3 linked regions of the Homo sapiens genome follow. The protein of the gene in region 1 interacts with the protein of each later gene in a pairwise test. Each region holds a gene or a part of one and is shown in the gene's direction. Other genes may lie near its edges.

Region 1 (3,500 bases):
TAGTATTTACCATTCAGTTAAATCTCATGTGCCATGTGCCTTCTACACCCCTGTACTGTGAGAGGTGATGCTCAGAATAACAGTTGCAAAGCCCGTTAAAATTACCACTTGTCAGATTTTCTCTTCATAGTGCTGATCTCTCCATGACTTACGTTTTAGGAATCACCACCTCTCTTCTAATTTTCTGACTAATGTTCTGTTAATGAGAGAATTGTCTTAACCCTAAAACCTGCATTCCCTGAGCATTCTAGACAGAGGGTTTATTTTATGTGGTGGAACGATGATTTTTGAGATTGTTTTGATTTAAAATATATGTCAAATGAGGTAATGTACCGATGGCCAAGGTATGGGTAATTTGAGTGCAATTCGCCAGAATCCGTGCCCCTTGGAGGGAGTAAACATTTCAGGACTGCAGCTAAAACATTGACTTACACTCTCCTGAAGCCCAGGCACCTGGCTTACACAGTGCACTAACATAACTGAAGTCTGGGTTTGATCACTGTACAGTTGACAAAGAAGCAGTAAGCAGAATGGTTAAAAAGTAGTTCTGGAGCCAGACTGCTTAAGGTCAGGTTCTGGTTGTGTCACCCACTTTAAAGCCTTGGGCAAGCTCTTCTACCTGGTAACTAGTGCCTCATTGTTTCCTCTGTAAAACAGGGGTGGTGATAGTAGAATCTGTATCAGAGAGGTTGTTGTGAGGATTATATGCGTTAATACGGGGTAAGTGGTTAGAACAGTGCCAGCTTTATAAGAAACATCAAGTGTTAGGTGTTATTATCTGTTGTTCAGAATCAGGGAAGTACTTAGTTACACAGTAGTGTTTTATAGCTGTTGAGAGCTGAATTGCCGGCATTGATCACAAGTGAGACTGGAAAAACAACCCGGGGAACACTCTTATGTTAAGTCAGTAGCACCATCTCAAACATACATCCAACTTCTGAGGGCAACGAACACAGGACATAGCTTTTTACTTAAAGGAATCTTAACAGTCTCAGCGGAGTGCTTGAGGTAGTCACTAACCAGTTAATTGAAACTGGCTTTTACGAAATAAAAACACTTGCCATTCTTTGGCTAGTCTTTTCCACGTTGTAGTTGACATTGTGGCCTGGCAGCTTTAGTAACCTGTCCACCCCTCCCTTCTTGTTAATACCAGAACAGAACTAGTTTCTCAGTACATATTCCTGGGCCCTATCCAGTTTGTTGGAAACATTTAGAATGTAAATTTGTAAGCTAATTAGTTTCTTCTAAGTATTATGTTTTCTTTAGATGATATGCCTGTACTAATACAGAAAAATTATCCATGAAATGGATATGAATACAATGGACATATTTATCGTATAGCTTTTTGTACCTGTTAGTAATTCAGAAAGGTTGTGTTATTTTGACCATTCTTTCAGCCAGATTGTAAGTTTCCTGATGGTGAGAATCTGTGTCTTTCTGTTTTATCTCCTATGGCACTCTGAATGTGCCTTGGCTGTGTTTCTTTAATAAACTGTTGGTTGCTGAACTGGGTGGTATGATATGCGTTCATTCTAGTTCTGTGATTTTGAAACTTGGGAATGTTTAACAGATTGAAGGAGAGAACATCGTGTGTGGTACCTTGTAAGTGTGCACTGAGTTGAAATTCTTTTGATTATTTAGCTTTCTACTTTCTGTTTTTATCATTGGTGTGATTATTGAGAAGGCAGCTGGAATTAAGTAATTCTAGTTCATCTCCTAAGATAGACATAAAACTTGTCTTGTGACTTATTTTTACCCATAATTGGATTAGAATTGAATTGAGCAAAATATAATTTGGTTTTCTAGATGTTAAATGTCTTATATGTCTAATACTTTGAATATCACTCCTCTAGAACAGGTTCTTTGTTTTATTTAGGATCAGGGACAGGTTAGAAAATATTCAAATATTCATAGGATAATAAAAAACTGCCCTGAAGCAAACGTGAGGAAGAAGAAATAGTGGTAGCCAGAATCTTGGTTGTTAATGACCAGTGTAGAAACACAGTGGGCATGCAGTGAAATTGGCTGGCAGCTGGTTCCTTCTCAGTACGGGCACAATTTAGAAAATGTTACATTAATGCAGCTGAAATTTTGTGCAGATCATGTTATTTGAAAAATAAATGTAAACACTTTTTGCAGTGCCTTAGGAAAGTCATCGTTCAAACTAATATTTTTGTAATAAACTAGTTATTCCCAGTTTTTTTTTTCTTTTTTTTTTTTTTGAGATGGAGTATCACTCTGTCGCTCAGGCTGGAGTGCAGTGGCGCGATCTCGGGTCACTGCAACCTCCGCCTCTTGGGTTCAAGCAATTCTTCTGCCTCAGCCTCCGTAGTAGCTGGAATTATGGGGCACCCCCCACCATGCCCAGCTAATTTTTGTGTTTTAGTAGAGATGGGTTTCACCATGTTGGCCAGGCTGGTCTCGAACTCCTGACCTCAAGCAATCCACCCGCCTTGGCTTCCCAAAGTGCTGAGATTACAGGCGTGAGCCACTGTGCCTGGCCCCTAATTATTCCCAGTTTCTTTCAGGTAAAGTTTTTTTCACTTTTTAAATTTATCATTTTTTTAGATCAGATCAGTCAGTGGACAGTTGCACTCTACTTCCCCATCCCTCATTAAAGTGGAATTACACTAAAAAAGGTTTTCAATTCCTTTGTAGCCTGGACATTAGTAATAGCCTACCTCTAAGGCTGTAGAGTAAATAGTATAGTAAGGGAAATGTCCCTCCCTCCCCCTACACACCTTTTTTCCAGTTATCTCTTCTTTTTATTGATTTGTCTGCCTCCAGGACCCTAGGGAGGTGTTTTTGTCCTAAGGAGGTGAACTCCTGAGGGTCCTATTGAAGAAATAGGGCGACCTATCCACCCAACTTCCTCTTTACTGATATCTTCACATGCTTATTGCCTTATTCATTTTCTAAAGTGTGCCAGCGTCTTTCAGAAGTCAGCTAAATTAGTGCAGTTGCTCATCCATCAGACAGTTTTGTTATAAAATATGTGGCTATAAAAGATTGAATAAATTTATTAGGTTGTAATTTCATTAATGTGTATTTTATATTTAAATATTATTTTAAAAAATGTACAGTGGTTATCTGATCTTGGCCCAGGCCTCTTCAATTTCCAGTGTACCTGATGTCTCTTTATCAACTGTTTTTCTGAGGTGTATCTCAGCCTGGCCTTGGGTACTCCCCTAGGTAAGAGTCATAATTCAGGTTAAAAGAGGTAAGAAAAAAAAAAGCTTTTGGCTTTTGTAATCTTGTTTTTTTTTTTTTCTTTCACATTAGCAAAAGACTGTTGAAGTAGAGAGCATTTTGCCCAGCTCACTCGGATTCTTTGCTGGCATGCCTTCAGTTTCAGTTGTCATCCAGAGAAGTCAAAGGAAATGCTGCTTGGGGATGAGCATGTAATTACGATTAACTTTCCCTACTTCGTTGTCTCTTTGTGGTAAAAGACTGTCACAAGTGCTATTCAAACTATAGGTATTTTTTTTTAGATTTCTAAA
Region 2 (2,649 bases), on another chromosome or scaffold:
CTTTGAGGTGAGTGACCGTTTATGCTTCTGGTTTTTGTTTTTTTTGAGACAGAGTTTCGCTTGTCGCCCAGGCTGGAGTGCAATGGTGCGATCTCCACTCACTGCAACCTCCACCTCCTGGGTTCAAGCAATTCTCCTACCTCAGCCTTCCAAGTAGCTGGGATTACAGGTTCCCGCCACCACGCTTGGCTAATTTTTATATTTTTATTAGAGACAGGGTTTCGCCATGTTGGCCAGGCTGGTCTCAAACTCCTGACCCCAGGTGATCTGCCCGCCTTGGACTCCCAAAGTATTGGGATTACAGGCGTGAGCCATTGCACCCAGACGCTTCCTGCTTTTGACCTTGGGAAGGATCCAACAGAAAGCCCTGCTGTCTGGGGTGGGCAGGACCTCTGAAAGGTTTTGGAACCCAGTATCTTTGTCCTTATAGCCTGATTGGTGAAAGGGGCTGAGCGGCTCCTGCTGCTTCCTCTTGATGGCTGGGACTTCTGTCATCTCAGCTGGAATTTAATCACAACCCATTACACTGAAATAATGCCTTGGGTGCACTGCTGCCCCCATTCTAGACAAGAGCAGATTAACTTTGGTGAATGCCTTGCCCAAGGTCACAGGTAGTGACAAAGCTGACACTCAGATTCAGGCTTATTGGATCCCAAAGCCATCCTTCCACCTGGGCTCCCTCATTGGCCATTCAGAAACAACCCCCACTCTACTGAGAAATCGAAGGCAGCACCGCTAAACCCTCTGGCAAACTACAGGGGCGATTTGGTCAGTGCTCCTCCCACCACACCCAGGATGACTGTTCCCCTTCCCTCCTAGGTGCTGATGGTGCGCTTTGCTTCGTTGTTCAACGTGAAGGACCAGACAGTGATGTTCCTAAGCCGCACCACCTACAGCCTGCAGGAGCTTGGTGCCATGGGCATGGGAGACCTGCTCAGTGCCATGTTCGACTTCAGCGAGAAGCTCAACTCCCTGGCGCTTACCGAGGAGGAGCTGGGCCTCTTCACCGCGGTGGTGCTTGTCTCTGCAGGTAGGTCAGGCTCTCGCCTGACCCGGGGGAGGAGGCAGACGCAGTTCAATTCAACACACCTTTTATGGAGTACCTACTCTATGCCAGGCCCTGCACCGGGCACTGGGGATACAGACATGATTCAGACACAGTCTAGCTTGGGAAACAGACTCATGCCCGACTAATTATAAAACAGTGAGATAAGTGTCACAGTAGAAGCATGAACCAAGGAAGCACAGACAACTATTTCTGCCTGGGGGAGCTGGGGAAGGAGGTGACACTTGAGTTGGGGCCTCAAAGGACAAGTAAGATGTTGCCAGGCAGAGAAAGGGGGAAGGGCATCCCAGGCAGAGGGAACTACACAGCAAAAAGCAAGGGAGTCTGGCCATGTTTGGCCTGCTGAGGAAGGGAAGGTGGTCTTACGGGATGGGAGGTGACCAGCCCTGCTGAGCCCACGCTCCCAGCTTTCAGGCACCTCCTGCTCTTGGGGCAGAGGCCTGGGAGAAGGTATGGCACTCCTTCTCCTTCCCCATCGGCCTTCTGGGGGGCTTCAGGGAGAGGCTGCATTGCCTGCCAGGTCCTCGCAGACCTCCGGTTCCTCCTCAGAGGAGCTCGGGGAGTCCGCCTCACTGCTGTCGTCTTCCCCACAGACCGCTCGGGCATGGAGAATTCCGCTTCGGTGGAGCAGCTCCAGGAGACGCTGCTGCGGGCTCTTCGGGCTCTGGTGCTGAAGAACCGGCCCTTGGAGACTTCCCGCTTCACCAAGCTGCTGCTCAAGCTGCCGGACCTGCGGACCCTGAACAACATGCATTCCGAGAAGCTGCTGTCCTTCCGGGTGGACGCCCAGTGACCCGCCCGGCCGGCCTTCTGCCGCTGCCCCCTTGTACAGAATCGAACTCTGCACTTCTCTCTCCTTTACGAGACGAAAAGGAAAAGCAAACCAGAATCTTATTTATATTGTTATAAAATATTCCAAGATGAGCCTCTGGCCCCCTGAGCCTTCTTGTAAATACCTGCCTCCCTCCCCCATCACCGAACTTCCCCTCCTCCCCTATTTAAACCACTCTGTCTCCCCCACAACCCTCCCCTGGCCCTCTGATTTGTTCTGTTCCTGTCTCAAATCCAATAGTTCACAGCTGAGCTGGCTTCTGTGGTGTGTGCTCGTTTGGGGGGTGGGGTGGAAATACTGCCAAGGCTGGGGGGGGCCACCTCTCCATCTGGTCAGTTTGTGGGGTGGGTACTCTGCCAGCAGATGGGAGGATATAGGGAAACAGCACACAAGTCTAAGGGGGGTGCCCAAGGGGGTTATTTTCATCATATATTTATTACATAAATATATAGTAAAATAGACGAGCAACAATTACCATAAAAATATCTTTCTTTAAAATCCTGACCCAAAACACAACGGGGTGAAAAATCGCACATAACAGACATACTGATTGTCAACGTGGGGCAGGAGTAGGAGCCCCTCAAGTCACCCCTGCCGGTCCCACCCCTCCCTGGGGAAGAGACCTACCTCCTTCCCTGTTTCTGGCCACAACCCCCCTCCCCCCAGCCCAGCACCAGCTTCTCATACATTCAGTAGCGCCTCTGGGCAGTGTCCCCCTCCCCCCCGCCCAGGAGTTCCCAGGGCAGGAGTT
Region 3 (3,264 bases), on another chromosome or scaffold:
GAAGGAAGTCGTTCAATTTATTCAGCCCTGTGAGATGTGGATATAAAATTCTTTCTGCATTTTTACCATTACTGTCATCATAAATGGTTATTTAGAACTGCACATTGATTGTGTCTCAGGGGTTCTCAGAACCGGCGTTCAGCAGAACAGAACTTAATAAATGCTGATTCAGGGATGCAGAATCGAACACACTCATGCTGTCAACCTGTAAAACAATCCCCTGAATCCTCCCACAGTGCTCGTAGGGGCGAGTTCTGGGCCCTCAAAAGGGCAGTGGCAATAAGCAATCTAGGACAGAATGACATCAAGGTTGCCACGGGAAGGCCCTGTTGGGATTTGCACAGAGAAGGGCGGCGGAAGGGTGTCCAGGCAGAGGAAACAGGAAATGTGGCCGGGAAGCAGAGTTCATGTGAGGGTCAGGAAGGGAGGGGAGCAAGAAAGAAGGCGAGAGAGAGGAGACCGGAGGTCTGAGCTGCAGCCACTACACAGGCCTGGAATTCTACCACAGGGAATTTGGTGGGTGCCTCTAAAGGGCTTTAACCTGCAATTAATGACATGGTTGCTGAATGGCTCCTGTGGGCAAGAGAATAGGTGGTTTGGGGGACACACGGGTTGGAGGCCCGTGCATATCCCAGGTGAGAAATGGCACCGGCTCAGGGCACTAGTGGTGGGATGACAGCAGGCGGATCTGAGCCCCCTTCAGAGGGTGGGACAGGGGAGACTTGGTAGGTGGTTATGAAGGGCTGGCCAGAGAGTGGCCAAGAGACCCCACTTGGCTATTCCAATGGTGGTGGCATCTTTCTCCTGAAGTTGAGGACCCTGGAAGGGGCTAAGGCTCATGCGGGGCCCCTGACACTGGCTGAGGTTCCCCTCCCCGCCCATCTGCTTCTCTGCAGCAGCACGAGTCTCTGGAAAAAGACAACCTCGCCCTGCGGAAGGAGATCCAGTCCCTGCAGGCCGAGCTGGCGTGGTGGAGCCGGACCCTGCACGTGCATGAGCGCCTGTGCCCCATGGATTGTGCCTCCTGCTCAGCTCCAGGGCTCCTGGGCTGCTGGGACCAGGCTGAGGGGCTCCTGGGCCCTGGCCCACAGGGACAACATGGCTGCCGGGAGCAGCTGGAGCTGTTCCAGACCCCGGGTTCCTGTTACCCAGCTCAGCCGCTCTCTCCAGGTCCACAGCCTCATGATTCTCCCAGCCTCCTCCAGTGCCCCCTGCCCTCACTGTCCCTTGGCCCCGCTGTGGTTGCTGAACCTCCTGTCCAGCTGTCCCCCAGCCCTCTCCTGTTTGCCTCGCACACTGGTTCCAGCCTGCAGGGGTCTTCCTCTAAGCTCAGTGCCCTCCAGCCCAGCCTCACGGCCCAAACTGCCCCTCCACAGCCCCTCGAGCTGGAGCATCCCACCAGAGGGAAGCTGGGGTCCTCTCCCGACAACCCTTCCTCTGCCCTGGGGCTTGCACGTCTGCAGAGCAGGGAGCACAAACCTGCTCTCTCAGCAGCCACTTGGCAAGGGCTGGTTGTGGATCCCAGCCCTCACCCTCTCCTGGCCTTTCCTCTGCTCTCCTCTGCTCAAGTCCACTTCTAACCTGGTCTTCGGAGCTGGGTTGGCCCCTTCTTTGGGCTCAGGAAGCAGCCTTAGCACACGGGCCTCTCCTCCCTCACTACTGGGTGCTGCCCTGCGTGGCTGACCAGCTGGCCCAGGATTTCACAGTCGAAAAGGAAGCCACCACTGATGCCTCCCACTGTGACAGGCCCTGTCACCACCAATATCTTATTTCAACCTCACAGTTGACCTGAGAAATCGAGATTATCACTCCACTTTTTCAGACAAGGAAACTGAGGCTCAGGGAAGCCAAGTGACAAGTCCAAGGTCACGAAGACTTTCTTGGAGCCCGAAACACCACCCTCTGCTCCTCCTTCTCCTGTCCTGGCCCAGGCATCCTAGGGGCTGAAATCCTGGAAACCGTGGGCTGGTGTGAGAAGGTTTGCATGCTCAGAGCAGAGAAGGGCTCTCCCCACTGCTTCGTGATTCCAGGGCCAGAGCCATGCAGTCCCAGAAACCCCAACCTAGCTGGGGCAGGTCCAGAGTCCAAGCCCTGGTGGGTAGAGGCCAAGCAGAAGCCCTGAAGTGGACTCTTGCTTCCCCTAGTAGTGTTTTCAGTGCCAAGAAGCTGAAACTGTGAGCTGGAGTTGGGGAGAGGTCTGGAAGAGGACCATCTGGGATTTCTACAGCCTGGGTACCCATAGCCACACCAAGGCTTCTGGGAGATTCTGCAGGGTCAGCTTTCCAGGCTGTTCCCAAATAGCTCCCTGCCTCCCCACTGCCCCTAAAGCCACAGCAGAAGAGCCATTCATCTCATAAACAAAAAGGAAGAGGAAAGAATGAGGAAGGACCCTGTGCAAGGTTATTTGCAGGCAGGGATGGGCTTGTACCTGACAGCACCCACCCCTGTGTGGCCCCCAGGCCCTCATCACCCTCAGACCCCTCCTAAGCAGTTCCCTCATTGCTCTTTGGACTAGGCTGACAGCAGGAAGAGCAGGGCCCATGACCGGGTGGAAGTTCAGTTTTGGTGTCTGCTTCAAGAGGGGGTTTTACACTCTGATTCCAGGACAAGCACTCTGAGGCGGGTGGGGGAGAGAAACCCTGGCTCTTCACCCAGGTTTCACACACATGTAAATGAAACACTATGTTAGTATCTAACACACTCCTGGATACAGAACACAAGTCTTGGCACATATGTGATGGAAATAAAGTGTTTTGCAATCTTTTCTGCTTTGCCTAGTTACTTAAACCTCTCTTTGTAACCTACAGAGTCTTTGAAAAAAGAGAGAATAACAGAGATGGGCAACCCCTCATGAACCAGCTAATTAATCTCCCTCCAATACTACAGATGAGGAAACTGAGGCTCAGAGATGAGACGGACTTGCGCAGGTGTATTAGTCAGTGTTCTCTAGAGAAATAGAACCAATAGAGTGTGTGTGTGTGTGTGTGTGTGTGTGTGTGAAGACAGAGAGATTTTTTTTTTAATGTTGTTTTTTTTTTGAGATGGAGTTTCACTCTTGTCACCCAGGCTGGAGTGCAATGGTGCAATCTCGGCTCACTGCAACCTTCGCCTCCCGGGCTCAAGTGATTCTCCTGCCTCAGCCTCCCAAGTAGTGGGGATTACAGGTGCCCACCACCACACCCAGCTAATTTTTTCCTTTTTTTGAGACAGAATCTCGCTCTGTCGCCCAGGCTGGAGTGCAGTGGTGCAATCTCGGCTCACTGC

What was found. The genes of interacting proteins can lie anywhere in the genome.
Region 2: the proteins of BACH1 (region 1) and NR1D1 interact in a two-hybrid assay, tested with the Homo sapiens proteins (one large-scale study listed by BioGRID and IntAct).
Region 3: the proteins of BACH1 (region 1) and BATF2 interact in a two-hybrid assay, tested with the Homo sapiens proteins (one large-scale study listed by BioGRID and IntAct).

The regions. Positions count from the first base shown.
Region 1 is NC_000021.9:29,301,922-29,305,421, forward strand, and holds part of BACH1 (transcription regulator protein BACH1), read left to right. Parts: intron 1-3,282; exon of another isoform or gene 3,283-3,401; intron 3,402-3,500. UniProt on the Homo sapiens protein: Transcriptional regulator that acts as a repressor or activator, depending on the context. Binds to NF-E2 DNA binding sites. Plays important roles in coordinating transcription activation and repression by MAFK.
Region 2 is NC_000017.11:40,092,293-40,094,941, reverse strand, and holds the end of NR1D1 (nuclear receptor subfamily 1 group D member 1), read left to right. Parts: coding exon 1-7; intron 8-819; coding exon 820-1,030; intron 1,031-1,074; exon of another isoform or gene 1,075-1,559; coding exon of another isoform or gene 1,560-1,659; coding exon 1,660-1,859; coding exon of another isoform or gene 1,860-1,922; 3' UTR 1,923-2,149; downstream 2,150-2,649. Other genes in the region: THRA (thyroid hormone receptor alpha), read right to left, coding at 1,560-1,922. UniProt on the Homo sapiens protein: Transcriptional repressor which coordinates circadian rhythm and metabolic pathways in a heme-dependent manner.
Region 3 is NC_000011.10:64,987,445-64,990,708, reverse strand, and holds the end of BATF2 (basic leucine zipper transcriptional factor ATF-like 2), read left to right. Parts: intron 1-431; exon of another isoform or gene 432-566; coding exon of another isoform or gene 567-635; intron 636-896; coding exon 897-1,580; 3' UTR 1,581-2,764; downstream 2,765-3,264.